3 separate regions of the Homo sapiens genome follow, and regions 2 and 3 are each linked to region 1. Evidence: fine-mapped expression QTL. A gene starts in region 1. Each other region holds a variant in brackets. All regions are shown on one strand. Distances are from middle to middle.

What was found.
Region 2: its variant is fine-mapped to the expression of ACAD11 in whole blood (TOPMed, PIP above 0.99).
Region 3: its variant is fine-mapped to the expression of ACAD11 in whole blood (TOPMed, PIP above 0.99).

What each region holds. Positions count from the first base shown.
Region 1 is chr3:132,655,292-132,663,478 of GRCh38, reverse strand. It overlaps ACAD11 (acyl-CoA dehydrogenase family member 11), which reads left to right and starts at 3,670. Exons shown (of 20, transcript NM_032169.5): 1 at 3,670-3,876. The coding sequence starts at 3,728. It overlaps UBA5 (ubiquitin like modifier activating enzyme 5), which reads right to left and starts at 3,150. Exons shown (of 12, transcript NM_024818.6): 1 at 2,781-3,150. The coding sequence starts at 2,941. All of the region lies in intron 26 of NPHP3-ACAD11 (NPHP3-ACAD11 readthrough (NMD candidate)), which reads left to right. RefSeq lists enhancers at 2,555-2,834, 3,205-3,294, 2,830-3,368.
Region 2 is chr3:132,531,719-132,539,905 of GRCh38, reverse strand. DNAJC13 (DnaJ heat shock protein family (Hsp40) member C13) reads right to left here. Exons shown (of 56, transcript NM_015268.4): 56 at 874-1,730. The coding sequence ends at 1,624. Among named protein-coding and RNA genes, the nearest start is that of ACKR4, 61 kb to the left of the region's middle. The variant G/A (reference allele first, on the strand shown) is at 4,737.
Region 3 is chr3:132,791,467-132,799,653 of GRCh38, reverse strand. It overlaps NPHP3-AS1 (NPHP3 antisense RNA 1), which reads right to left. Exons shown (of 11, transcript NR_002811.2): 4 at 6,040-6,120. All of the region lies in intron 2 of LOC105374115 (a long non-coding RNA gene), which reads left to right. Among named protein-coding and RNA genes, the nearest start is that of NPHP3-ACAD11, 73 kb to the right of the region's middle. The variant A/C (reference allele first, on the strand shown) is at 3,840.

The DNA of each region.
Region 1 (8,187 bases):
GTATGTAAGCATTTAGTTTACATTCAGTCACAGCATTCAGCATGTAAACAATCAGTTTACCCCTTCCTTCAGGTACAAAGACCTGCCCCAATTATTCTTGGAAATCTTCTATTTTACTCTTTCTAATGAAGAAATCTCTACTCTCCTCTTCTGGTAGGGAAGGAGTGTTTGCCCAGTTACCCACAGTGGAGTAGGGGATCTGGGGCTTTTGTTTCTTCAACAGATTTTCAACTGAAAGTTTTTTTTAGCCCTACCTGAAGTTCTGCAAGTACCTGTGCCTATTCCTGAGCCTTTTGGGGGATTCTTGCAATAAACTGGGTTGCGAGCTTAAGATTAAACTTCTCTGAATCTATTAAATCAGTTACCTTCACCCATCCCTTCTCTAGTTTCCAAATTGTTACTATAATCAAGTACAGGGACCCACCCCTCCCTATCAGTTATTAATACGAACCCTTTATATTTTCAATGGGAGTTTCTTTTAAAAAATTCCTTTACTGTCACTTTAGTGAGGTTGGGTAGAAAGTGATGGCAGATCCATCACAGGAATTTGCTATCCTTACCTTGATGCTCCCTTCAATCTTTAAATAATCTGAGAAGCATGGATGGCAACCCCCTTTTACAGATGAGGGAAACGGTTTGGGTTAATCAACTGCCCAAAATCAGCTAACTGGCAAGTGGTATTCTGAGCTGGGTTTCTGAGCCAGGATTTGATACCAGGTTTTCTAATCTCAAAGCCTCTCCAATTTTTCCACATGCTTATAACTATATTCCATAACACATAATTTTACGGTTACTTGTGTTTTTTAATATCCCACCTCCATGTAGTCTCTCAAACTGAAGCAAAAGTCAGGTGCTTTATATTTCTTTTGTATCTCTTGAAGCAATTAAAATGGTGTTGAACACATACATATCCCTTTCCTATAACCTTTTGTACTTTATCATAATTCAATAACCTGTACTTTATCAATAATAACACTGTACTTTATCATAATTCTTATCACCTGTACTGCAATGGCATGTTTACTTTTCTATTTATCTCACACTCATCTGGTAAGCTCTAGAGGGAAAAGACCATGTCTACTTTATATTCACAGTGTCTGCACACAATAAGTACTCAATACAAAGTAAATAATATTGTCAAGGAGGACTGGAGACAAAAATGTACTCAGTAAATATTTGCTGTATGAACAATTCAAAAAATTAAAGCTGAACTTTATTAAAATTCCATATATCAGTGAACAGCTTTGGGTATCAAACTGCCATCTCCTGTATAGCAATTTTAATAAAGTCAATGGTGCAAATCAGATAGAAAATACTACATATTTAGACTTGAGTTCTGAAAGTTTTGTTATAATTACAATGTCAAGGGATCATCTCATATTAAATAATGTCTGAAAGACAACTTAAATTCATGACCCATATTCCTCTGCTTTTCATTCTGGAGGGAAAATTTCAAAGTCTTCATTTGTAAAATTTTAAAATGTTTTAAAAATGTCAAATAGTTTCCACTTATTCTGATTAGAGATGTCAGTTCATGCTTATTTAATCTCTAAAAATTCTGGACCATTAACCGTTCATATTTGGCAACACAGTTAAAACAGTGCACCCTAAGACTTCTACTGCGGCTTTATATATCACAAACTAAAACCTTTTTTAAAAATCAAAACTGTTATGCTCTTTAAAGGAAAAAAGCAACAATAAAATCTTCCTTATCTACTTTAACACTATACAATTTTTAGCTACACGACTTAATTGTTTTTACTGGGGAGACGGTTCATGAGAATTTTACATTAAGACAAATCTAATGCAAGACAGGCCTTATTATTTACTACCAAGGCATGAACCTGAGGTGGCTCTCTAAGCCTCAATTTTCTCACTTATATAATGGGGGTAAAATAGTAGCAATCTCATAGGGTTTTGGTGGGAGGAGACAATGCATGTAAAGTGCTTACACAGTGAAAGCTCAATAACTGCTTGCTACTAAATGCACCTAGCAATAAAATCTTGTATAAGGCTTGCCATGTACAAGCGCTACTCTAAGACCTTTATACATACTGATTTTTTCAATCCCCACAACTATGACAGAGATAGATATTACTATTATCTTCATTGTACAGGTGAGAAGCTGAAGCGGAAAGTTTCACAACTTGCCAAAGGTTAGGCAGTTACGAAGAGAGTAGTTAGATTTGAATTGCAATCAGTCTGGCGGTAGAGTCCTTACCCTTAACCATTGCACTATATTCCATCTGCTGAATTGATAAGCTTTGTTAGGAAAGAAGAAAAGAGAGGCCTGGGCAGTCTTGGTAATGTCGAATGGTTTGAGATGTTAAGGAGCACCCGAATATCTCAGAATAGAGCTAACCCCGCTCTCCCCCGCCCCGACCCCATTTAAGATGCATTGATAAGCCTTTAATGAAACTCAAAGTTTACCTTAGCAGGTTTAATATTTGATCTCATCTTCTGAAAGTTCTTACTATCAGTCTTATACACAGCGAGGCGGACTAATTAAGAGGCAAGGGTGATAGGAAACTGGACACACGTCCTCAGCAGGCACAGGAGCAGCACCATATGGCTGACTCACTGGAGGTTTTTAAAAAAGAGAAAGAATATCTTCCGATCAGTACTAAGATGTGGCCTTGCCCATTTGGGAACAGGATTCGCAGACCAAGAAAAGGGTGGCGGGCGTCCCCATGAGCGGGACGTGGGAAGCGCCTCACTTCTGACCTCACGGAGCCTGACCTCGTCCCCCGCGCCTGCCTCCGACCGGCGACGCAGGTTACCTGTAGGGATTCGAATCCACCACCTCTGAGCTCATCTTCTCGATGCGGACCCGGCCGCCCCCTCCGTCGCCGCTCCTCGGGACCTGCAGACTCCTCTCCTGGGCAAGTTCCCGCTCCAGCTCCTGGACCCGCTGCTGCAGGCGCTCCACAGACTCCGCCATGGCTGGGACTCCGGCCGCCAACGCTCCCAGCCCGGGCCTTCGCCGCCGCCTTCGCCCCACGTTGCTCGGCTGGGCCCGCGAGGGGTACGTGGGGAGGCACCTCGCCGCTGCCTTCCTAGCCCAGAGCCCTGGGGACGTGCACCCAGCGCCTCACAGACAGACACGTCTCCGAGACTCCCACAGGCCTTCCTCGGAGCCGCTTCCGGTGCGTCGCAGACATCGCTCCCCCTCATCAAAAACCTGGCTCTTTCGGCTTCCTTCCTCGCTGGGCCGGCTAAACCCGGCCGCAGCAGCACCGGGGTGATAAGTGTCCAGGGCAGGAGGCCAGCGATGTTGCCTTGCTAACCGGGTATCTAAGAGAAACAGGGTCTTTTTATTCTTAGGCTCGACAGTCTGACGGCCCTTTTTCTGAACGGGACCCTGCAGGTCTTCCGCCTGCTGTTGCATTAAATTTGGGGGTGGAAGAGGCTTCTGCGTTGTTCCTTACCCGCAACGATGACCATGGCTTTGCCTTCTTTAAAATTGAGGCCTCCAACTCTGACGCTGACTGGAGAATTGAAACCCGAACACACATTGGGCTCTTTTGGCACTTGACTAGAGCTAAAACCTCGGGATTCAGCGGGCAAGCGTTGCTCAGCAACGGCGCGTAGGCTGTGTGCGGTTGGCTGGAGCCAGACCCCACCCCGGCCTCGGCCCATGCTCTAGAGGGGACGTTGCCCCAATCCTGAAGGACTTCGGCACTCGAGACCTGTGGATGCCGCGTTGCTGTGGCCTGCGGGGGTGATCATGAAGCCAGGTGCTACTGGCGAGTCCGATTTGGCCGAAGTGCTGCCCCAGCACAAGTTCGACAGCAAGTCCCTGGAGGCCTACCTAAACCAGCACTTGTCTGGCTTTGGGGCCGAACGTGAGGCTACGCTGACCATTGCCCAGTACAGGTATGGATGTCAGCCTTTGCCTCCAGCGGAAAAAAATTTGTACATTGAGTTTTCCTTCCTTTGGCCCTGGGTGGTTTCCTAAGTTTCTCCCACCCTGATTGCTTTTCCTGCAGTCAGTGGACGCACCCTACAGGCATGAGCTGCTATTGCCGGCCCTCCGAATTCGATGCTGGGGGCTTCCCAATTGGAGGGCGGTAATGGAAGCGCAATAACGTTCACCATTCTACTATCCAAAGGAATCTTTGTTAAAGGATGGATTTATGTCCCTTGAGGATTCACCAAGGCAATTAAGGCTACAAATTCTGAGAAATAGATGCCTTCTTTTGTGATACAGCCATTAGATCTTTTTCTGAGAAGCTGGTGTAATTCCGTTTGATTGGCCGTATTCCGGGAGGCTGAGTTAATGACACCAGATGGAGGATCCGAATTCGAGTACTAGCTTTTCCACTTAGGAGGTCACAGCACCACTTTGGGCCTCAGGTTTTTTGAAGTGAGGTAATGGAACTGAGTGAGAGGATCCTGAGAGTAGCGTTCCCCACCGGGAATCTGGCTTTAGTCTGATGTTTTACAATAGATAATACATTCTTAAAACTTTATTCTAAAAATAACATTGTTACTAATACAGGGCTACAGAAAGAGTCCTATCATTCAGAAAACTGGATCTGTCACTTGCTGTCTGGGAGTTTAAATATGTTACATAAACACTCTGAGAACTAGTTTCCTAAGTTGTAATACCTATTTTGATTAGTCTTATTAATGAAATGAAATACCGTAATATAGGTGAAAGGGCGTAAAAATTGCAACAACATAGTGTGCTAGTGGTATTTTATCACTAGCATTTATATTCTTTGACTACTGATTTTGGTGAAAATGAAAATAATAATAAATGAGATGGATCAGGGAACATTTTAGGGTGTAGAATTTAAAGGTCCCATGTCCCAATAGATATTGGAAGATGAAGGGAAAGGTGGAATAAAGAATAGCTGAGATTTCTAGGCTAGAAGCCTTGTGTTGTAACAAACTGAAACAGATCAAAGTTCAAATTTCAACTATTTCAATTGCTGTGGAATTTGGACAAGTTACCCTTTGAACATCTAGTCCTGCTTTGGCAAAAAGGAGATAGTAACGTTCATATTGTAGGAGTGTTGAAGAGGTACATAACTGAAAGATACTTAATTCTGAACCAAGCTGAATGTTAAACCATAACCGTGTTCAAAAAATGAAATTAGTTGTAAATTAGTTGTGGTATAAAAATTGCTTCCAGAAATGTTGTATAAGCTTGGTTTAATAAATATATATGGAACTCTGGATCCCACAGAGAACACACATTCATTTCTAGGACACATGAAAAAGTTTATAAAAATTGAAAACACATAGGCCATGAAGGAAGTCTCAGAAACTCAAAAGAATCAATCTTTATATTTTGAAAATGTGTGTTTTGGCCAGGTGCAGTGACTCACACTTGTAATCCCAGCACTTTGGGAGGCCGAGGCACGTGGATCACTTGAGGTCAGGAGTTCAAGACCAGCCTGGCCAACATGGTGAAACCCCCATCTCTACTAAAGATACAAAAATTAGCCGGGCGTGGTGGCACGTGCCTGTAGTCCCAGCTACTTGGGATGCTGAGGCAGGAGAATCGCTTGAACCAGGAGAGGGAGGTTGCAGTGAGCCAAGATTGCACCACCATGCTCCAGCCTAGGTGACAGAGTGAGACTCAAAAAAAAAAAAAAAAAAAAGGAATATGTGTTTTTTTAATACCAAAAGTTTAACAGAAGATAGCTAACAAATACATGTTTATAAATTAAGTGATTCATGGATTAAAGAGCCAATAATCTACATAGACAGTAAAAGACTATCAAAGTTCAGTGTACAGAAATCAACTGCATTTCTCTACTTTAGCAACAGTTAAAATGTAATTTTCAAAAACTTACAGGAGCATCAAAAATATAAATTACCTAAGTAAAAGATGTGCAATACCTTTGTAGAGAAATGATAAAACTTTTATTAGGACCTTAAAAAGAATTTTAAAAATTGAGAGATGCCATGTTGTTGAATAGGAATATTCAATATTGCAAACTTTTTTCTTCCAGTTGATCTATTGATTCAAAGCAATGACAATCAAAATCCTAATTTTTTTCTCTAATTTGAAAAAGTGCTCCTAAATTTTATGTGTAAGAGCGAAGGGCTAAGGATAGCAGAAACATTTTTAAAGAACCACAAGGTGGGAAATTTGAGTTAAGATGGTATGATATTAGCACAGAGATAGACAGACCAATAAAATAGAACAGAGAGTTCACAGAAAGACCCACATATTTATAGAAGTTTGATAAGTGACAATGTTGGCACTGAGAGTCAGTGGGGGGAAAAGAAGAACTTTTCAAGAAGTTATACTGGAATAATTGTTATCTGTATGAAGAAATAGAAATTAGACTCTTTATCTCACACAGTTCCAGGTAGATAAAAGAACTGAATGTTAAACTATAAATGTTTGGAAGATGTGTAAGTTATATTTTTGACTTTAGAGAAGAAAATATTTTAAAGACAACAGCAGAAACCACAAAGGAAATGACTGATAAATTTTCATTAAAAGACTTAAAGTGAAAAGACAGAAGAAAATATTTTCAGTGCATATAATGGTTAAAATATTCAGAATATAACTATAATAGCTCACCAGAAAAATGGGCGAAAACTTGATGATGCTCAACTTTATTATACTGTAGTAATAAGGGAAATGCAAATTAAAAAAAAAAAAACAACACAATGAGAAACCATTTCACACCACCAAATTGACTTTTAAAAAATCTGACAATAGACTGGGTGCAGTGGCTCATGCCTGTAATCCCAGCACTTTGGGAGGCTGAAGCAGGTGGATCACCAGAGGTCGAGTTCGAGACCAGCCTGGCCAACATGGTGAAACCCCGTCTCTACTAAAAATACGAAATTAGCTGGGTGTGGTGGTGGGTACCTGTAAATCCCAGCTACTCGGGAGGCTGAGGCAGGAGAATTGCTTGAACCTGGGAGGCAGAGGCTTTAGTGAGCTGAGATCACAGCACTGCACTCCAGTCTGGGTGAGTCAGAGGCAGACTCCGTCTCAAAAAAAAAAAAAATCTGACAATATCAAGCATCAGGATATGGGGCAACAGGGACTCATATAGGGGTGTGAATTAGTATAGCTGCTATTGAAAAATAACTCAACATGATCTTGTAAAAATGAAGTTGGGAAGATACACATGACCTATGACCTAGCAGTTCTACTCATAGATACATACTCCTGAGACTTTTCTTGTACTACAGTATAAGGGGACAATCTACAAAGATGTTCATTGTACTGTTTGTAATAGCAAAAATCCAGGAAACAACACAATGTCTATAGATACAGAATGGATGAATAAATTGCAGTATATTCACATAATGGAGTAGCATACAACAGTGAAAATGATTCAGCTACAGCTGTACATAACACAGAATGAAAAACGTGAAGAAATTAACAGTATATTATATACAGAGATAAACTTCAAGGGAATGATAAATATAAAATTCAGAATGGTAGTCACTCAAGGGGAAGGACATACAGGGTTTCAAAGACAGTAATTTTCTCCGGGTAGTGAAAATGGTGTTTGTGGCATTACTATTCCTCATGCCTTACCAATTTCATAAATACTCTTTTTATCTGCAAGATTTACTTTTAAAATTTGCAAAAATTAAATCTTATTGGAAAGATAAAATATTTAGAATTAATCAATAATGAAAGTATTATATAGCTTGATACAACAAAACTTGTGATTTGCAGCTGAGTGCCTAATATGTATCTGGCACTGTATCAACCACTGAGGATGTAACAATAATCTTGCCTCCCTGGAACTTCCATTGTATTTGTAGAAGACAGACAGGAAAATCAGCTTCTGAACTTTACAATGTAGAAGTTGATATGTAACATGGAGGAAAAGAGAATAGGAAATGTTTGGGTGTGGGGCAGGAAGATTTCCTCGAGCACACGGCATTCAGCAAAGACTTGAAGGGGGATGAAAATGTGAGCCATGTAAATATCCAGGAAAAGAGTGTTCCAGACAGAGGGGACTGCTAATGCAAAGGCCCTGGAAGGGATGTGTGCCCAGTGTGTTGAGGAAACACAGCCCAAATGCCTGAAGTAGTGTAAGCAAGGGCAACAGGGACCCTGTCAGGCAATAAAGAGACTTTGGCTTTTACTTTGAATTGAGATGGAGAGAGACTTAAAACATGCTTGAGCAGAGGAGGGAAGTAATCTTTAAACAAACAAACAAACAACAACAACAAAAAAAACAGAATCTCTGC
Region 2 (8,187 bases), 120 kb after region 1:
TTAACTGGCCCACAGGTTCGTTCTGAGGATTAAATGAGATTATGCAATACTTAGCAGACAGTAAATATTCAATAAAGGTTAAGTATTGTTGGCATCTAAACATCAATGATCGTAGACTAATTTAACGGGCCTTTAACTATTGTATTCACAATACTTATATTCTTAGTATTTAAAAGAAAACATTGCTATGTTGATTTATGCTCTCCTAAATACCTAATCCCAATTTAGCTGTTATAATTTTTTAGTGAACACATTTTTATACCCAACTATTGTCTAGAAACTAAAACCCTAGTTACATATTAAAATACTTCCATTAACATATTACTCTATAATCTGTTAGAGATGATAAACTTGATGCAGAAGTTTGAATTAGTGATTTGGAATAGGAGTAAGTTTCCATTTTGGCTGTTCTTACACATCAACTGTGGAATAAACTTGGTTCTTGCTTTGAAAGGAAACTTGGAAGTGTGGGTATTTCCCCATTCTTTAAGAACTGTTTGTTTATATTCTCCATGTTTATATTTTCTTGTAGTTTGTGGTCACACTAGAAAATCTATGTGCTGAGATTTGTTACTTGAAAAATCTTCTGGCTATTTAATTTTCTCTTCTTAAAAATAGTAGAATTAATGTCACATATTATTAACAGCCTGACCCATTCCTGAATGTTGTATGAAAAATAAATGAGATGCTGTGTCTGGAAACTTAGATGTGGCTGAAATATTAAAGTTAGGAATGATTAGATTATGTTAATGCAGCCATCTATATGAAGAGTTACGAATGTAAGATAACGTCTGTTTAATACTACATCTGTCTTAGAAATAAAGATAGATATATGAGGTCTTCAAACGGAAAGATTAAACTAGAACAAATATATCTCATTAACAAAGCAGTCAATTCCCTTTATTTTTAAAATTTTATGTACACATATGAATGATCTGTATAATGTACATTCAATATAGAAAGCTTTATATATTTGATAGTGTATAGAACATTTCACAATTACACTCATCTTTTACATAACATCTTGACATCCATTTTTAAATTTTTTTGCACAAGCTCCTTTTCATTCAATTTGGTAAAGCCAGTTATACATACTAATGTGTACTGTGAGCTTTCAGAAGGTTAATGATTGAGGATGCCAGTGAAGGGTGCAGGGACAAAACCTAATAGTCTTGGATGGTGGGGGGAGGATGGCCACGCAGACTTGATGCAGGAGAGGGAAATATTCTTTCCTGGGGAAAAGTGACTTAGCCCAATTTTTGTTGACTGTAGCTCAACCCTACAGTCATGCTAGTTCAAAAAAAAAATTACAAAAACTAGGAAGAAAGTTTTGTCTTTTTGATTCACAGTTTTGTAAACAGATATAAAGGAACAAATGTGCTTACATACACCAAGAAAAAAAAAATTCTTGTGTACCCACTTATGTTGATCCACAGAGTGCTTTCTTATAATGTGATACAATTAGGATCACTGACTTTTTTTCCTAAAAATATATTTATAGAAAAAGGAATAACACTGTCATGAAACCAGGAGAAAGGCAGTAAGAGTTTGCTTCAACGTATCAGCTGGAGGAATGTGGACTTGGCACTGGCCTTTCAGCGTTTATTGTCTCTCGTGAATATTTCAAGTCTGATAGCCAAGGTCGCCTGCCTCATGGTCTACAGGAGGTGGCAGGTTAGACATGACTGATGTAGATGTACCTGCGGTAAGGTAGCCAGCAACTCCAGGTCCTGCAAGAGAGAAAGGTAAACACACACCTCTAGAAAGCAGTCAAGTGAAAACATTGACCTTTATAAAAATGTCAGAACCTGCTCAGGCACTCCATCACACAAAACTAATCATCTATTTCAATTACCTAAATTACATCTATACCTTAATAAACAGCTACATAGTACTATTTTCATGTTTGCCTACACTATAGACTAGAAATCATTTCAAAATGTATGCTGGACAGTAACACTGGTGTGGAAATATGGATAAAATTTTCTTTCTTACATTTGGGAAATTCAATCTTTCAAAAAATTCCGAGCACTGAAAAGAACTATGTCGAATGGAAAAAATGGAAACAGACAGACAAAAGAAACTCTACACTCAGCTCATCCAAAAGTCATATGTGACAAAATTCAACATAAACACTTCTGTCAACACTCAAACTAACCTATTTTCATTTGGTGCAAAGAAATGCTATTATAACAAGTAACACCAAACGAACAAGGGTTGCTAAACCAAGGACTCTGAAAAAGAAAAGGCTCTGGACATCCATCTGTCATAGGTTAAAACAAGAATGCTATGTGAAAGGGTACTGATATTTTAGTCTTATATTTCTCCCTTGATTCTAACAGTTTCTATTGCATGAAAATGCCATATATGCCAGCATTTATCGAGATGTGTCCTATGGGCATATTAATGGCTTTAGCCCTCTAGAGTTTATTTTAAACATTGCATAAACATTTAATTACATCTCAGAAGCACTGCACAAACTAACAAGTACTTGCAAGGGACACTGTAGCATAATACTGCATACTGAGCAATAGTTTTAGCTGAAATTGTAGGAAACAAGGCAAACAACTAAGGAACATTGAGGGTTAGGACTAGAAAGGCAGTGGGAGCGGCATGCATTTAGCAAAACATTTCTCTACCTGCTTCAGAGAGCTACACAGAAGTTAGCAAGCTGCCTGGCAGAGCGGATCTAAAGCCCGCTCCTGAGGTGAAGGGGGCTGCTGCCAGTTAGAAGGGAAGGAGAGACACCTGAGGGGAAAAAAGAAATATAAGCAGCAAGGGAAGTTGTGAGGAAGTGCAAACAGCAGAGTAGTTTGATGAAGGTAGAAACAGGGATTGGTGGAGGACAAAAAGGCCACCATTCAGATTCATCTTGTTTTTGACCTTAAAAGTATTGGTACTATGGATGTGAAATGGCTTGTATAGATACATAGGCAGAGATGACTCAGCCTGTGTGAGCTGTAACTGAAGCCAACCAGAGTGCCCAGGTACTTGGAACGCTGTACTTATAAAAACCTTGTACTTGTAGAACTTACAAAAAATATTTCTCCTTTTTAAGGTACTGTGGGAGCCTGCATCTATCAACTCCTGCCTTGAGCCAATCAGGATGCCAGGCCTTTCACAGTCTGCTCAGGAAAAAGGCCACCAGGTCAACAAACCCTTCTGACAACGCAGTTCAGAGCTACAGCAGCACCCTGTGATCATTTCCCACCACCCTCATATTCTCTGAACTTTAGGCTGCAGCATGATTACTGCAAAACCATCCAGTAGGTGTCATCAAAGATGTAACCCTTAACAGTAAGACCTCAAACACTCCAGACTGTGTAGTTTCTGAGCAATTCTGATTGTGGGCTCAACTTGGTTCCCATCAAAATAGTAGGTTACAAGACCAAACCATGAATGCTGCATCTAGAAAGTGGATTAATGACGCAGTTCTCAAACTGTGTGCTGAGGCACCCTGGGGCATTGCTGGATATTTATTTATTCCCTTTGCCCCTCTGTGTGTGTGTGTATTTAACAGATGGGGGTCTCACTATGTTGCCTTGAACTCCTGGGCTCAAGCAACTCCCCTATCCAGGCCTTGAACTCCTAGGCTCAAGTGATCTTCCCACCCCAGCCTACTGAGTAGCGGATTCGGCCTGTCCATGTGGACTACAGTTGCCTGCCACATCATCCAGCTAACTGCTGGGTATTTTAAATTTGAAACACAGCGCCATCTGCTGACCACCATACAAACAACTACTTTCAAGTTGTCTTGCAATTACTTCATAAACTAAATTATTAGGTATTTCTTTTGGCTTGGGGACGGATGAAAAAATTACTGAGCTATTAAGGGCACTGTGAACTGAGAAAATGTGGGAACCTCTGAGCTAAAATCTAAATGGTGAAATGATGGGCTTAGAAGGAAGAAACCAAATTTTAGTACCATCATTTGCCTCTTTAGGAAAGGCAAATCAAAATCAATTCCCGGATAGTTCTACAAATGAAATCCGAGATGCTCTCCCCAGGACCCTGGCCTCTCCTTGAGGATGTGTCTGGTTTCTTGGGGCTAAAAGGTGCTGCCTGGTCATTTGCACAGAATAGGGCAGTTGTGTTCTTCAGAGAAAGATGGGAAGAGCAGGGGCTGCCAGGAATGGGCATGTGGCAAGATTGCACAAGGCTGCTGGACTTCAGAGAAATGAGAAAAGATGGAAAATTTACAGAGAATCCCACAAAACTGAATTGGCTACCACGATGAAATGTATATGTGAAAAGTTCATCTCCAATTCTGGCTCCTAGAAGCATCTTCACCCTGGCCTCTGTTCCTTTTCCTGTTGTTCCTTCTTTTGCTACTGATTTTCTAGGTTAGGTAATTTGAGGATTTTCACTGCTGAAATTATTTTTTATGAGGCTCTGAGACCATCAGCACCAAGCTGTTCTAGAACCTAATAAATGGCTAAGTGATCAAGGGCCCTGGATAATGAGTAACCACAATTTATCTGCATCACAGGAAAAATTCCACTGAGGCACCTTTAAATAAGCATTTATCATAAAACAAAATATGCCAGGCTAGAGAACCTATGGAAATAGGCAGTCTCATTTAAATTTATCAAGATTGAGTAATCCTACCTAGGACTTTAAAATTTTTACCCCAAATCTTGGGCATGTGACTGAATGACATTTACTCAGCAGCCAGAGAGAAGAAAACGTAGTTTTGGTCATTTTTATCTTACTTTGAAGTAGTAATTAACTCCTTT[G/A]TCTTTCCCCATGTCCTAAACAAAATCCACCTAACCTGCCAAACTCACCTAAAGATATCAGTTAGAAGAAAGGGTTGGTGATGTGTGTTGTCACAGCAACCTTGATTTCAATGATTACAGAGGGGCTGGGTACAATCTGTATCTTCTGAAGTTTGGGAGTAGCACGGGGCACATTTTAACTAAATGAAATTCCAATTCAACACAACACTATAAATTCCTGGAGTTCCACATCATGGGATTTTATCATTATTAGAACTACATGCCCCTTTTATCAAACACATGATACACAATACATCAATGAAAAGCTCAAACACAAAAAACATTTGGCAACTCAAGCAATGAGCACACATCAATCCAACTGGCAGTAAATTTACCTAATTTATCTCTTAATTTGCCTACATCATCTGTAGTTAGAGGATGTAGGGCTGACATCTTATATACTACAATTTCAGGCAGACAGCAAGAGTTAGAAGCTTTAATTCTTGAAATAGTTCTTTCATTTTTAATGTAACTTAATTTTTTTTGAGACAAGGTCTTGCTCTATTGCCCAGGCTGGAGTGTGGTGGTGAGAGCTCAGCTCACCTGTGACCTCCACCTCCTAGGCTCAAGAGAGCCTCCCGAGTAGGTGGGACTACAGGCATGCACCAACATGCCTGGCTAAATTTTTGTATTTTTTTATAGAGACGGGGTCTTGCCGTGTTGCCCACGCTGGTCTGGAACTCCTGGACTCAAGCAGTCCGCCCACCTTGGCCTCCAAAATTGCTGGGATTACAGACATGAGCCATTGCACCTGGCAAGTTGGTCCTTTCAAATAGGACAGACTAGAGCTGATGAAAAAATTTCCAGCAACTGACATCGCTAAAAAAGAGCATCCCAGATTGATAACATGCTCAGAATTTCACAATTCTGGGGTCAACAATGCTTACAGCTTATCCAGACTGTTCTACATGGACACGTCTGCAGGCTTCAGTAATGGCCTTCTGGAAGACTCATTATCTCCATGCCCCTTCCTGGTTGGGTTTTATACCATCTCCCCATTTGGCCAGACCTGTACAGAACTTGCTGTCCCTTAAGCCGGCTCAGGGATGGGAAGAAATTTGTATACCCCAACTTTTCTTTTTCCCTAACCTTCTTCTAACCCCTTCACAGCCACTTTTCATATCTCATTCAGAAGCCACCGCATGGATCCAAGTAAAAGGAAAGGCACAGACAAGAAGCTTTTTACTGCCTATACCTTTTCCCTATAGTTACTAAAGCATGTGGATGGGGGTGAGGACCAAATGAAGTCCAGGTTTCTGAAGATAAACCCCTATTTCTTCTGGATTCTAACCACAGACCTTTTGGTTCACACTCTGTAAGTCAAGGACATATGTTTTTTATTTCATCAAGTTAAGTCAAAGAATGATAGATAAGACTGAACAGAAGAATTAGAAGAGGCTTTCCTGTAGAGAAGCTTATAATATACACATTACTATTCTTCAGGGCCAATTTACTCTTAGTTAAGAAAAATAAGGCTGACCAGGTGCAGTGGCTCACACCTGTAATCCCAGGACTTTGGGAGTACCAGGCGGGTGGATCATTTGAGGCGGGTGGATCATTTGAGGTCAGGAGTCCGAGACCAGCCTGGCCAACACAGCAAAACCCCGTCTCTACTAAAAATACAAAAATTAGCTGGGAATGGTGGTGCACACCTGTAATCTCAGCTACTTGTGAGGCTAAGGCAGGAGAATCGTTTGAACCCGGGAGGCAAAGGTTGCGGTGAGCTGAGCTCATGCTGTAGTACTCCAGCCTGGGCAACAGACCAAGACTCTGTCTCAAAAAAAAAAAAAAAAAAAAGAGGGCGGGCATGCTGGCTCACGCCTGTAATCCCAATGCTTTGGGAAGCCGAAGTGGGCAGATCACCTGAAGTCAGGAGTTTGAGACCAGCCTCTACTAAAAATACAAAAATTAGCTGGGCATGGTGGTACATGCCTATCATCCCAAGTACTTGGGAAGCTGAGGCAGGAGAATGGCTTGAACCTGGGAGGCAGAGGTTGCAGTGAGCCAAGATTGCACCATTGCACTCCAGCCTGGGTGACAGAGCCAGACTCCGTCGCAAAAAAAAAAAAAAAAGCCAGGTGTGGTGTCTCACGCCTGTAATCCCAGCACTTTGGGAGGCCGAGGTGGGTGGATCACCTGAGGTCAGGAGTTTGAGACCAGCATAGCTAACATGGCAAAATTCCGTCTCTACTAAAATAATAATAATAATAATAATAATTACAAAAATTAGCTGGGTGTGGTGGTGCAAGCCTATAATGCCAGCTACTTGGGAAGCTGAGGCAGGAGAATCACTTGAATCCAGGGAGCAGAGGTTGCAGTGAGCTGAGGTCGCACCACTGCACTCCAGCCTGGGTGAGAGAGCAAGACTGTCTCAAAAAAATAAATAATAAAATAAAAATAAGGCAGATTTTTTTTTCAATCATACCATCCTTATACAAAAAGTAATGAATGTAATGCCATGAAAACGTGGTATGTGAACTTTTGGACATAGGCTAAAGAGGTAAAGTTTTTATACTGCCTATAAGAACAAACTCCTACTTAGAAGCTATAATTTTAACACCAAATCTGAAGAGAGATATGGGACAGACTGAGAACACAGTCTAGGTATTTTTCTCCATAGATATGAGGGACAGGGGATGGAAAAGTTAAAATAAAAACCTATGACACTGTTCTGAACAGGACATGACCTGCAGCCAAAGCACTGCATGTTTATAAATTTTAGGACTCTGCTCCAACTTTAGGAGTGTCAATATTAAAGTGGTTATGGTGAAGAAAAAAAAGTGTCACACCAAGTTTAAAATTAAAACCAGGTAAAATTTCCTCCAAAGCCTCTAATTTTGAATATTCAAGATAAAGTCTTCATGATCTTATAAACTTCTATACTAGCAATCAAGATTAAAACAATTACAATGGCTTAGAAACCCTGGGTGATAATTTTTTCTCTTAGTTTATCATCTTTGGTTAGGAGAGAATGCAGGGCTGACATCTTTTTATATACTACAATTTCAGGCAGACAGCAAGAACCGCCTCATATTCCTAAGGTTAATTTCAAATTAAGAACTTTTATAGCAGACTAGATATTGCCTCTTTAGCATTCAGCAAGAGTCTGACTTATGTTGAAGCCTATATGAAAATGACTATTCTAAAATTATGCAATTAGTGTGTCAAATGTTCTGAGTTTTAAACATAGTATCTTTTGAAACCAAAGCAGTAAAACATCCTTTCATTCATGATACCTATGTATTCCACCCCCATAAAACGACACACCCTAAATATTTAGCAAAACCATAAACAAATCACTGGAAACTTAGGAGAATATCTTTTTTTTTTTTTTGAGGCAGAGTCTTGCTCTGTCGCCCAGGCTGGAGTGCAGTGGCGCAATCTTGGCTCACTGCATGCTCTGCCTCCCGGG
Region 3 (8,187 bases), 140 kb before region 1:
ACAGGGACACCCTACTTATGGATCTTTCCCCCCAGGTAAACTCATTTTCTCATGGGCCAAAGACACATGTCCACTTTTAACAGATAAGAATTTTGTGCCAGTTTTCAAAGGGAATGCTTCCAGTTTTTGCACATTCAGTATGATATTGGCTGTGGGTTTGTCATAGATAGCTCTTATTATTTTGAGATACGTCCCATCAATACCTAATTTATTGAGAGTTTTTAGCATGAAGCGTTGTTGAATTTTGTCAAAGGCCTTTTCTGCATCTATTGAGATAATCATGTGGTTTTTGTCTTTGGTTCTGTTTATATGCTGGATTACATTTATTGATTTGCATACATTGAACCAGCCTTGCATCCCAGGGATGAAGCCCACTTGATCATGGTGGATAAGCTTTTTGATGTGCTGCTGGATTCGGTTTGCCAGTATTTTATTGAGGATTTTTGCATCAATGTTCATCAAGGATATTGGTCTAAAATTCTCTTTTTTGGTTGTGTCTCTGCCCGGCTTTGGTATCAGGATGATGCTGGCCTCATAAAATGAGTTAGGGAGGATTCCCTCTTTTTCTACTGATTGGAATAGTTTCAGAAGGAATGGTACCAGTTCTTCCTTGTACCTCTGGTAGAATTCGGCTGTGAATCCATCTGGTCCTGGACTCTTTTTGGTTGGTAAGCTATTGATTATTGCCACAATTTCAGCTCCTGTTATTGGTCTATTCGGAGATTCAATTTCTTCCTGGTTTAGTCTTGGGAGAGTGTATGTGTCAAGGAATTTATCCATTTCTTCTAGATTTTGCAGTTTATTTGCATAGAGGTGTTTGTAGTATTCTCTGATGGTAGTTTGTATTTCTGTGGGATAGGTGGTGATATCCCCTTTATCATTTTTTATTGCGTCTATTTGATTCTTCTCTCTTTTTTTCTTTATTAGTCTTGCTAGTGGTCTATCAATTTTGTTGATCCTTTCAAAAAACCAGCTCCTGGATTCATTAATTTTTTCAAGAGTTTTTTTTTGTCTCTATTTCCTTCAGTTCTGCTCTGATTTTAGTTATTTCTTGCCTTCTGCTAGCTTTTGAATGTGTTTGCTCTTGCTTTTCTAGTTCTTTTAATTGTGATGTTAGGATGTCAATTTTGGATCTTTCCTGCTTTCTCTTGTGGGCATTTAGTGCTATAAATCTCCCTCTACACACTGCTTTGAATGTGTCCCAGAGATTCTGGTATGTTGTGTCTTGGTTCTCGTTGGTTTCAAAGAACATCTTTATTTCTGCCTTCATTTCGTTATGTACCCAGTAGTCATTCAGGAGCAGGTTGTTCAGTTTCCATGTAGTTGACCGGTTTGGAGTGAGTTTCTTAATCCTGAGTTCTTGTTTGATTGCACTGTGGTCTGAGAGACAGTTTGTTATAATTTCTGTTCTTTCACATTTGCTGAGGAGGGCTTTACTTCCAAGTATGTGGTCAATTTTGGAATAGGTGTGGTGTGGTGCTGAAAAAAATGTATATTCTGTTGATTTGGGGTGGAGAGTTCGGTAGATGTCTATTAGGTCCGCTTGGTGCAGAGCTGAGTTCAATTCCTGGGTATCCTTGTTAACTTTCTGTCTCATTGATCTGTCTAATGTTGACAGTGGGGTGTTAAAGTCTCCCATTATTATTGTGTGGGAGTCTCTCTTTGTAGGTCACTCAGGACTTGCTTTATGAATCTGGGTGCTCCTGTATTGGGTGCATATACATTTAGGATAGTTAGCTTTTCTTGTTGAATTGATCCCCTTACCATTATGTAATGGCCTTCTTGGTCTCTTTTGATCTTTGTTGGTTTAAAGTCTGTTTTATCAGAGACTAGTGTTGCAACCCCTGCCTTTTTTTGTTTTCCATTTCCTTGGTAGGGATGCCCTCTCTCACCACTCCTATTCAACATAGTGTTGGAAGTTCTGGCCAGGGCAATTAGGCAGGAGAAGGAAATAAAGGGTATTCGATTAGGAAAAGAGGAAGTCAAATTGTCCCTGTTTGCAGATGACATGATTGTATATCTAGAAAACCCCACTGTCTCAGCCCAAAATCTCCTTCAGCTGATAAGCAACTTCAGCAAAGTCTCAGCATACAAAATCAATGTACAAAAATCACAAGCATTCTTATACACCAATAACAGACAAACAGAGAGCCAAATCATGAGTGAACTCCCATTCACAATTGCTTCAAAGAGAATAAAATACTTAGGAATCCAACTTACAAGGGACGTGAAGGAACTCCTCAAGGAGAACTACAAACCACTGCTCACTGAAATAAAAACGGATACAAACAAATGGAAGAACATTCCATGCTCATGGGTAGGAAGAATCAATATAGTGAAAATGGCCATACTGCCCAAGGTAATTTATAGATTCAATGCCATCCCCATCAAGCTACCAATGCCTTTCTTCACAGAATTGGAAAAAACTACTTTAAAGTTCATATGGAACCAAAAAAGAGCCCACATCGCCAAGTCAATCCTAAGCCAAAAGAACAAAGCTGGAGGCATCACGCTACCTGACTTCAAACTACACTACAAGGTTACAGTAACCAAAACAGCATGGTACTGGTACCAAAACAGAGATATAGATCGCTGGAACAGAACAGAGCCCTCAGAAATAACGCCGCATATCTACAACTATCTGATCTTTGACAAACCTGACAAAAACAAGCAATGGGGAAAGGATTCCCTATTTAATAAATGGTGCTGGGAAAACTGGCTAGCCATATGTAGAAAGCTGAAACTGGATCCCTTCCTTACACCTTATACAAAAATTAATTCAAGATTGATTAAAGACTTAAATGTTAGACCTAAAACCATAAAAACCCTAGAAGAAAACCTCGGCAATACCATTCAGGACATAGGCATGGGCAAGGACTTCATGTCTAAAACACCAAAAGCAATGGCAACAAAAGCCAAAATTGACAAATGGGATCTAATTAAACTAAAGAGCTTCTACACAGCAAAAGAAACTACCATCAGAGTGAACAGGCAACCTACAAAATGGGAGAAAATTTTCACAATCTACTCATCTGACAAAGGGCTAATATCCAGAATCTACAATGAACTCAAACAAATTTACAAGAAAAAAACAAACGACCCCATCAAAAAGTGGGCAAAGGATATGAACAGACACTTCTCAAAAGAAGACATTTATGCAGCCAAAAGACACATGAAAAAATGCTCATCATCACTGGACATCAGAGAAATGCAAATCAAAACCACAATGAGATACCATCTCACACCAGTTAGAATGGCGATCATTAAAAAGTCAGGAAACAACAGGTGCTGGAGAGGATGTGGAGAAACAGGAACACTTTTACACTGTTGGTGGGACTGTAAACTAGTTCAACCATTGTGGAAGTTAGGGTGGCGATTCCTCAGGGATCTAGAACTAGAAATACCATTTGACCCAGCCATCCCGTTACTGGGTATATACCCAAAGGACTATAAATCATGCTGCTATAAAGACACATGCACACGTATGTTTATTGCGCCACTATTCACAATAGCAAAGACTTGGAACCAACACAAATGTCCAACAAAGATAGACTGGATTAAGAAAATGTGGCACATATACACCATGGAATACTATGCAGCCATAAAAAATGATGAGTTCATGTCCTTTGTAGGGACACGGATGAAATTGGAAATCATCATTCTCAGCAAACTATCGCAAGGACAAAAAACCAAACACCACATGTTCTCACTCATAGATGGGAATTGAACAATGAGAACACATGGACACAGGAAGGGGAACATCACACTCTGGGGACTGTTGTGGGGTGGGGGGAGGGGGGAGGGATAGCATTAGGAGATATACCTAATGCTAAATGACG[A/C]GTTAATGGGTGCAGCACACCAACATGGCACATATATACATATGTAACTAACCTGCACATTGTGCACGTGTACCCTAAAACTTAAAGTATAATAATAAAAAAAGAAAAAAGAATTTTGTTCCCATGGAGCTTTAAGCAAATGGAGATAACGAATAAGAGAGCAAAGAAGTTAATGAACAAGATCATTAAAAATAGGTAAAAAAAAAACTGGGTGAAGTAAGGCAGAATGTAGGGGAAGAGCAGTCAGGAAGACCTGCTTGAGGAGATGTCCTCTGGCTGGAGATCCTTTTTTTTTTTTTTTTTTTTTTTGAGATGGAGTCTCACTCTGCTGCCCAGGCTGGAGTGCAGTGGTAAGATCTTGGCTCACCGCAACCTCTGCCTCCTGGGTTCAAGCAATTCTCCTGCCTCAGCCTCCCGAGTAGCTGGGATTACAGGCATGTGCCATCACACCTGGCTAATTTTTGTATTTTTAGTAGAGACAGGGTTTCGCCATGTTGGCCAGGCTGGTCTCGAACCCCTTACCTCAGGTGATCTGCCTGCCTCAGCCTCCCAAAGTGCTAGGATTACAGGCATGAGCCACCATGCCCGGTGGAGATCTTAATGTCCAGACAGGGCTGGACATGCTGAGATGTGAGGGCAGAGTGGTCCTGACAGGAGACTCATAAGGTGAAGCCCATGAGGCCTTTGCTGGGTTGAAGGAACAAACCCCGGAAAGGAGCATCCACTGTCATTTTTAAGCAAGGGGATGGCATGATCTGATTCATAGTTTAGGGAAAGGAATCAGAAAGAAGGAGACTATGAAGCCAAAAACAACTGAGGGAGAGGATGGATGATGTGTCTATAAGAAAACAAAATTAGTAAAGGCAGGAGAAGGGCATTGGGCACACTGGAAAAAACAATCCTTGTAGCTGCTCCAGACTAGAGGTATACTGAGAATTGACAGCACCAGGACTAGCTCACATGGAGGCAGAGGAATTTTCCTAAAGCGGCAGGGAGATAGGGGTGAATAGAAAGAAGACCTGAAAGTGGAGAAATGTAGCCTATTCAAGGCAAGGCTAACACAGAATTTACCTTTAAACATATTCATTAGGATTAGAATTTATCTCAGGTTAAGAAAAGCTCCCTGGGAATTGAGCTGACTTGATACTTTAAGTAGAAGAGGTAATTTGGGTGGTTCGATATTTCCTCTGCAGAAATGCTCCAGAGTGATGACTCCTTTGCAATTCCATATCATTGGGGCTTTGTATTGTGTTCCATTCATCTGTGTATCTGTCCTTTTACCAATAACAATGTTTTGATTTGTAAAGACTTTATAAATGCTTAGTTTAAGAATAAGTCTTAAAATCAGACAGTGTGAGTCCTCCAACTTTCTTCTTTTTCAAAATTATGTTCCCTACTCCGCAATTCTGTCTTTTAAAATCTTGTTTTAATCTTGGTGAGAATTTTTTCATATTTACTACATATAGCTGGTATATTTATTTTAAGTGGGAAATGGAAAATTTTTAAAAGAAGAGCTGTTAGAAATACTTGGGCTGCAAGTAACAGAATCCTTCATTTCAATGCCTTAAACAAAGAGGGCTTTATGTTTCCTTGCATAAGAGAAATCTGAAGTCAGGTGTCTGCTAGCATTGGTTCAGTGCTTCAATAATGTCAGGGTCCACTTCTCTGTGGGTCTTTTGGCCTCTCTCTCATAGTCACAAAATGGCAGTGATATGGATTGGAAATTTGTTCCCTCCAAGTCTCCTGTTGAATATGACCTCCAATGTTGGAGTTGGGACATGGTGGGAGGTGTTTTGGTTATGGGGGCAGATTCCTGATGAATGTCTTCATGCCCTCCTTATGGTAATGAGTGAGTTCTCCCTCTGAGTTCACATGAGATCTGGTTGTTTAACAGAGTGTGGTGCCTTCACCCACCCCTTGCTCCCCCTCTTGCCATGTAACACTGCCTGCTCTTCCTTCACCTTCCACCATGATTGTAAACTTCCTGAAGCCCTGACCCAGAGCAGGTACTGATGCTGGCACCACACTTCTTGTACATCCTGCAGAACCATGAGCCAAAATAAAACTTTTTTCTCCATAGAGTACACAGTCTCGGGTATTCCTCTATAGCAATGCAAATGGATGAATTCAGGCAGCTACGGCTGCTATCTTATCAATTTAAGGTAGGAAAAAAAGGAAAAATAGGGGAGGGGTAACTTACGTCTCCTTGTCCAAAATTGTGTCAGATGACCTCCTTTGGCTACAGGAGAGGCTAGGAAAGTGAGTACTTTTGTTTTTCAGCCTACAAAATGACAGAGGTTAGAAAGAAAAGGGTTTCATATGAGAGGTGAGAGTGCCAACCTGCAGCATCTGCCACAAAAATTGATGAGAAGTTATCCCCCCAAAGAAGCTTTTCATTAAATTCTTCCTCCACCCTAAAAAATCACTTCTTCCACCAGTGATAATGAATCCATCTTAAGCCACATTGCTTTCCTTCTCCACGTTGGATGGGAACCATCTCAGTGACTCCTGACTCTGCCTCTCCCAGTCATGAGAGTTAATTTTCCCCCAGCATTCTGCAGCACGTACGCAGTCTGTGAGAGTCAGAGAGACCAGCTAGAAAAATAAACCTAGTCTATTGCTAAAGAACAAGAGTGACATTATGATCAGGATACAGTCTAGCTCTCTTTAATAAATTTTCAAGGAAAGACTATTAGAATTCAATTCATGTCCATGAATTGCCCATTTCAGTCCTTGCATAGAAGAAACTGGGTATTTCTTCTTGTCTCTCATTCAATAAACATTTACAGGACTCCTATGTGCCAGGAGCTAAGGGTTTTTATTCTTTTTTCCTTTGTTATCGTTCCTTATCCTATTTTCTTGGATTATTTTTCTTTCCAAGTGTATGTGTAATATGTGTGTGTGTGAAGTTACAGACAAAATGTCAAGCCTGCAGAGTCAGGGCCCCATAACTATAGCTCCCTCCAGTCTCCTTCCAGGGCCATTAAGAGCACTGCTCACACCCGTTTGAGAAGGAAGGTCTGAGAAGGTACGAAGAATCAGGATGCAAGTGGTATCTGTCAGTAGTGCCACTTCTTACAACATTCATGTACTTATTTATGCATTTATTTATTCATAAATATTTGAGCCCATTTGGTAGATGTTGGGGACATTGTGGTGAACATACAGATATGGTCTCTATCCTCATTGAATTTATATTTGCTGTGGGGCAATGTTTTTGAAATATCAACCAATGTTATTATATTTCTCCCTTGAGGCAATGAGCAGAGAAAAAAGACAAGACTTCTTCTGTGTTAGGGGAATAGAAGTGATATTAGGCTACACAAAAATGTTACCATGAGCAGGGCTTCACCTCACACAAATACCCCACTAAACGAAAAAAAAAAAAATAGTGTGCGTTGAATGGAAGAGATGGGGAATTACTCTAGAAAGACCAGGGAGGACAGAAGGGAGCAATCCAGACCTGAAAGGGACAATGGATGAGCATAAGATGTGTCTCTGTCAAGGACCATAGTGAGGAGAGCTGTGGAACCAGGAACCTCATGGTAGCAAAGGGTGGATTTGCCAAGACATAGGGATCACCGCTTATCACCCACACCTGGGCCTATACCAATCGTTCTTTCCCTGGGCATCCAAAATCCATGCCTGCCTCTTCTTCCTGGGCATAGAGTTAGACTATATTTCCCAGCCTCCCTTGCTATTAGATGAAACCCTATTGTGAACCAGTGAGTTCTGGCCAATGGAATGTGGATAGAAGTGATACACACTTCTTCCTGTTTTGTCTATGCTCCCTCCATGCTCCCTCTTTCCTGTTCTGCCAGGTAGAGATGACAGGCTCTAAATCCCTAGGGGACAGCAAAACCAAAAGGTAGAAAAAGCTTGTGTCCCTGAGTCCCTGCTTGGAAGAAAATGACACAAGGTAGCCACCCTGATCACACATACCTGCATTGGACTCTTACTTGAGCAGAAGTGAACTTTTATGGTGTTAAGCCACTAAAATGTTGTAGTGTGTTACAGAAATTTTAGCCTATGCTAACAAATATTCCCAGCAACCACCCAGCTCAAGTAACACTTTCCTGTCCCTAGACTTAGTTCATACCTCAACCAACTTACCTCATGAAGACAGGTACCCCATTTGTAAAATACCAGGACACAGTACGTACCCACCCCACAAAAGGAGGATGGGACTCTCACAATCTACCCTGGCATTGTGATGGCAAGGAAGGGAAAGGTCCTGCTTGTGAGGCTAAACAGAATCTGGTTAAGATTTTTACTTTGAAAGAGTGATTACACACACAAGCGTTATACAATATAGAAGGAGAGAGAAACGGTAAACAAGTAAATGTAG